Linked DNA regions of Homo sapiens: region 1 is linked to region 2. Evidence: fine-mapped QTL for protein levels in blood plasma. A gene starts in region 2. The other region holds a variant in brackets. All regions are shown on one strand. Distances are between the middles of the regions. Region 1 overlaps ROBO2 (roundabout guidance receptor 2). Region 2 holds the start of ROBO2 (roundabout guidance receptor 2).

Evidence for each region. PIP is the chance, under the fine-mapping model, that this variant and not a neighbour inherited with it causes the effect. The UK Biobank Pharma Proteomics Project read protein levels with antibody pairs (Olink). The fine-mapping took linkage between variants from a reference panel, not from the people measured, so its PIPs are less certain.
Region 1: its variant is fine-mapped to the plasma level of the ROBO2 protein (UK Biobank, PIP 0.97).

Annotation. Positions count from the first base shown.
Region 1 is chr3:77,620,808-77,623,720 of GRCh38, forward strand. It overlaps ROBO2 (roundabout guidance receptor 2), which reads left to right. Exons shown (of 28, transcript NM_001395656.1): 24 at 1,420-1,625. Among named protein-coding and RNA genes, the nearest start is that of LINC02077, 430 kb to the right of the region's middle. The variant C/A (reference allele first, on the strand shown) is at 1,763.
Region 2 is chr3:77,038,524-77,041,436 of GRCh38, forward strand. ROBO2 (roundabout guidance receptor 2) reads left to right here and starts at 1,576. Exons shown (of 28, transcript NM_001395656.1): 1 at 1,576-2,323. The coding sequence starts at 2,263.

The DNA.
Region 1 (2,913 bases), 580 kb after region 2:
AAGTAATCTAATGTCTTTCATTCACCAGCCAACAATAAAAATGCATAGTACTTTTTAAGATCTCACCTAAATAGCACAGCCTTTTAAATACCTTTTATATGAAGGCAAAGAAAATACTTACTATGTTAAAACATGTAGTACACTCACTTTTTAATGCTGGTAACAAATAACAATAAATTCATTTCATTTAGCATTTTATGGTTTAGAAGAAAATCTGAGTAGACTCAAAGCAAATCAACTGGACCCTACTGCCCAGCTTCACACTTTGTTAGCTACCTGATTTGAAACAAGTCACTTAAATTTGACCTTCACTTTAATAAATTCTAAAGAAGGTTGGGCCAAGCATGATAGCTCATGCCTGTAATCCCAGCACTTTGGGTTGCTGAGGCAGGACGCTTGCTTAAGCCCAGGAGTTTCAGACCAACCTAGACAACATAGTGAGAATCCCACTCTACAAAACATTTAAAAACTAATTGGGCATGGTGAAGCACACCTGTAATGCCAGCTACTTGGGAGACCAAGGCAGGAGGATCGCTTACGCCTGGGAAGTCAGGGCTGTAGTGAGCCATGATCGCATCACTGCACTCCATCCTGGGTGGCAGAACAAGACCCCTTCTCTCCAAAAAATTAAATAAATAAATAAATAAATAAATGAGGGTTGATAATGCATGATCTATTTATTTCATAAGGTTGAGATTAGAATTATTTATTCATTGCAAAAGGTTTATTTAACACACTAGTGTTCCAAACACAGAGAATCCTTAGATGAATTGTTTATGCCTTTGAGGAGTTTAAGACTTTGTTGGGTGAGACAGATACATAAATAGCTACTAGAGCACAAATTAGTTGTGCCTACCCTAAACTGGGTTATAGTGAAAGTGGAAATAGCCTTCCAGCCTTGATGTGAGAGAGATCGTGTGGGGAGGAAGCCTTCTAGGGTGGGAAATGTGTTCAGGGTTGGGAGGTAGGGGATATTAGGTCCTCATGTGACATCTTTTCTTCATAAGGGCCAGCAGGCAGCATGGGTTACACAGACTGAGTAGAATTTTGACACTAAACTGAGAACAAAAGTATAATATTTTTGGAGAAAAATATTCACTTTAAATAGTTACTCGTGGCGAATATTCCTAGTCCCCTCTAGATAACTTCTTTTCACAAAAATACTGGGCCCGTATTTTTTTTTCTCCGTGTGTTATCCTATAAATACCAAGTGAAGAGTTTAATGGTTTATGTTTTCCTTGTTTGGTGAGGCTCGTATTCGTAGCCATTGTTTCTGCTGAAAGCATTATGAACTCCTAAATTAGTTAATGGAAAGGAAGAAGACAGTATGAGTTACTATAGCATGCATTTAATTAAAATTATGATTTTGTTGCATGTTAATAAGTTGCTTTTCTTTTTTAAATTTCATTTGAATTCTAGGCACATTCAAAGCAATAATCAACCTCCACAGCCTCCAGTTCCACCGTTAGGTTATGTGTCTGGAGCCTTGATTTCTGATTTGGAAACGGATGTTGCAGATGATGATGCCGACGACGAAGAGGAAGCTTTAGAAATCCCCAGGCCCCTGAGAGCACTGGACCAGACTCCTGGATCCAGCATGGACAATCTAGACAGCTCTGTGACAGGTAACGGAACCAATTTAATAGGAAAAACTGACCTATTGGTAACATTAAAATGCATCAAAAGTCAACTACTTCCTTATTGTAAGATTTATTCCACTCCATCTATTTCTGTAACATTTTAAATGTGTTAATATTAAATA[C/A]AAAATTCAAAAAGGATTTGGAAATACTTTTGCTTTGCTGCAAAAATGATAAGAAAATTCATGAATTTTAAAAAGCTTTAAAGACATGAAAGAAAACTCAATTATATCTAGGGCTTTCATGAGAAGTTCACTCTACTAGGAAACCAAGTCTATTACATTAAAAACCTTGACTTTTAGAAATGATCTTTTTTATATATATCAGGAATAACATATGAAGTGAATGCAATCTTAAAATGCTTCTTGATATTTCACTCTGTAAAATCATTCACTGATGGAAAGTAAGCACGTCTCCTGAATAAGCCACTTTAAGGTTGCACAAGGTATTATTTTTAGAATGAAGAAAATGTGTAGTGAGATAAACCATATGTTTATGCATTTCACATTGCTGCATCTAGTAAATGCTTCTCTTCCAAGAAATGCAGTTATTTTTTCTGTTTATTTCTTTGGCTTCCTCTTGCCTTGTTCATCAAACGAAAGAGTTGCATTGGTACTCTTCTATGATGATCCCAGGACTAAGGTATAACCTATTTTCAGGGATTTAAATGTACCAATTTTTTTAAAGAAAACTTTAAATCCTAAAATGGACACAATGAATTTGGAGAAAACTAAAAATTCAGTCTTTCTATTCAAATAGATATACACTGTTGGACACACAAGAAAATGCCTCTTACATGACTGTGTAGACCGAGCTACTACAAACTGAAGTCTGGTCTCTGCATTTCACTGGGTCTTCTCAGAAGACCACTCATATCTGTATTTACCGTGATGACATCTTTCATCCTAGGAGATATTTTACCACAATCCCGCTTAATTCATTTTTATGCCAACAGCTTCCAAACTTTCACAGATTTTACACAATGTGTTAGAGTTCTACAAACACTGATGGGAACTGGTTTATGACAGGATAAAGCAGCATCAGCGCCTATGATTTTCCTCTGTATTCCTCCCTGAATTACTCAATGTGTGATGCATGAGCCCATTTTTCAGTTTTTCTTCTTATCCAGGGGCTGGTCTGCTTGCCAGCCTAATTAAGATTTAAGAGCTGCAGATACACCGCTGTGATTTGAAATCCAGATCCAACCGAAGGTGACAGAGCACAAGTTAAAATCTTCAAATGCAGAGAGCTGACTTATTAGTGCACTATTATGTTA
Region 2 (2,913 bases):
TTCCTCAGACGGCCCCTTCTGGAGAGAACCTTTCCTAATATTTTCCAGTAGGGGGAACTAAAGACTCACCATCCAGCATTTAGCTCGGCTCGGGGACCTGCGTGAGTTCCTATAAGCCGCCTTCTCATCATCTGAACAAGCATCAAACGGCTACCAGCGAGCCTGTGATCACACGTGGGCCCGGCCGCACCGGGGCACCGCCGACACCGGCACCCCTTTGATCTAACGTGACCTTCCTTCATCATCCCCGGTCCTGAATGGCATCCTTTGGTAGTCTTGGTCTTAATTTTCAGAGTTTTGTCGTCTTTGGGCTGAAATTCGGCTTCTTTTTGAGCTTCCATGAGCTCAGCTGGGCTTTCGGCTTTCCACACCCAGAGCCTATGTTTACCGAATTTCCTTCTGGAGGTGCTGGTCCCTGGAGGGTAAAGACTTCGGGGATCCCCCTCCCCCAAGCTCTGTGATCCCCGCTTCCCCGTCCTTAGCATCTTCTGTGGAACTCCCTCGCCCTGCGCGATCGCGCATCAAACTCATCGTGGAGGGGTCAAAAGGCAACTGAGTAACATAAGAGGGGCTGCCTCCCCTTCCTCCTTCCCTTGGGGATGCCGCAGGGGGCCATAGATCTTGGCTAAAATGAGCCGCTGGAGGTTAGAGAATTCTGCCCCCTCCTTTTTCTCCCCCTTGTGCTTTTGAATCATATAGGAAGCATCTACACACAACCTTTCCAGTCCAAAAGGTGCTTCTATTTCCTTTCCTTTCCTTTCCTTCCTCCTACTCGGCTTCTCATCTGGCTAAAAGGTGAAGAGTGAGTGAGTGTGTGATTTTAACGCGTAATGAGGCTGCGCCCTGGGTCCTGGAGGCTGATCTTTTTCAAGAAAGCGCGTGCAGCTCCGGCAGACGGAGGGATGAATAATTAGGAAGGGCTTCCATGAAATCACTCACGGAGAAAATTACCTGCCCATTAAACGGGACGCGGCGAGGAGCAGGAGCCTGGAGCCCACCTATCCCCTCCCGAGGCGGGAAGGAGTGGGCACCCGGGGGCGCGGAGAAGGGGAAGGAGTCGCCCGGTGGCCTCGGCCCTCGGCAGCCGGCGGGGCTCTCCGAATTTGTTCATCTCCGTCCCCCCGGGGACTCTCGGCTCTCCAGGACCCCTCCCCACTCCCCAGCGGGCGGGTGGCCGAGTCCGGAGGTTCAGGGCTCCGCGCGCCCCTCCTCGCCCCCGCCCCTCCCCGGGCCGACTCCAGGCAGCTCTCATTCCTCCCCTCCCCTCCCGCCTCCTCGCCTTCCCTCCTAGAAGTCCTTCCACCCGCGGCAGCTGCCGGAGGAAGCGGACGCTCTGCTGCGAGGCTGCGGGGGCTGGACCCGGGCGAGGGGCCTCAGCGCGCCTGGCGCTGGACTGAGCGCTCCCTTTCTCCGCCGCGCCCGGGCTGGGCTCTCACGCCCGTCTCTGCTCGCGCCCGCAGCCGCCTGGTGCACTATCCTCAGAGGCGGCACCGCGGGGGTGTCTGCAGCCTCGGCCTCCGCCCGGCCCCTCCCTCCCTCCCTCCCTCCCTCGCTCCTTCCCTGCCTCCCTCACCACGTAGGAGTTCGGATTCTCCACCCGAATCGTCCTGATTTCCCTTCTCCTCTCTTTTGGAAACCGGAGAGGTGGAGGGAGGGCAACACCGCTGCAAAGGAGAGGCCCGCCAAGTCTGCCCGCCTGCAAAGTGTTGCTTTGACACATTCTTATTATGGAAGTTAAGTAAAAATATAGACATATTAAAAAATAACTCCGGACGTGGAGCTGCTACGGAGAAGGAAACCGGGGGAAAGAAAACCAGTAGGCAGGCCAATGGTTTTTCGGCAGCGCGCTGGCAAGTTTGTGGAACACTTTCTAGGAATTAGGTCTTTTCCTCCCCCTTCATCATCTTGACTTCTGAAGGAAGAACTTGGCTTTGGATTGCAGTGGAGCCTAAGGAGAGAGGGTTAGACACACTCGAATAATCCCTCTGGCTGGGCTGAATTTGTGGGAATTTAGGAAGCCAGAGTGCTGGAAATACAGCAGCCTTTGAAGTACCCTCTGTTAATTTGGATGGATCTCAGTGTGCCCCGTTCGAGACCTCTCCACCAACCCCTTCTGATCTTGCGATTTGCTCTTCTTGACTTTAATTAGTATCTAGGAAAGTCTAAACTTTGGACCTACCTCTTTTTTTGATACTCATTTTTGTACTTTTGCTCTCTGGGATTGGTTTCTTAAAGAATCTGGATCCTTTTTAATATGTCAAAATGAGTCTGCTGATGTTTACACAACTACTGCTCTGTGGATTTTTATATGTTCGGGTTGATGGTAAGTTAAAAATGCTTTCATCTTTTTTTGCGCCCCCCACCCCCCAATCCCCCAAAACCATTTCTTTTTGAATTTGATGTGGGTTATAAATGAAATGACATTATGTCTGTTAGTCCGTTTTGGCCCGGCACGGGCTCCTTGGGGGCAGAGGTTTTATTTAAGTCTTTTGTTTCTAAACTGCTGTAAGTGGAATGTGTTGGTAGTCACCTATTGTTGTTATTGTTGTAATTTACTTCACTAATTAAGGAGTTGGATAATAAATGATTGGGCTCCCAGTTTTGTTAGAAAAAGAAATATTACAGTCAATCTCCTGCAAGAGCCTAATACTATTGTGCCTGCTCTCTATTTGATGTTTGCTCTTGTGTCTGAACTTTGGCTGAGACATTCAAGTGAAGAAATACAGTAATAGACACTCTAAGGAAGGTTCAGTGGGTTAGGAATTTGAGACTGAGATCAATGTGTATCACCTGTGTGCCAGTGAATGCTCTCCTAGCGTTAAATCGAATGAAGAATTTAGATCCTAGGGAGAAAACTGTCAAAAGTGAGACTGGGCGAGGCTCCACGAAGGGGGAAGCATCAGCTATGGGCTG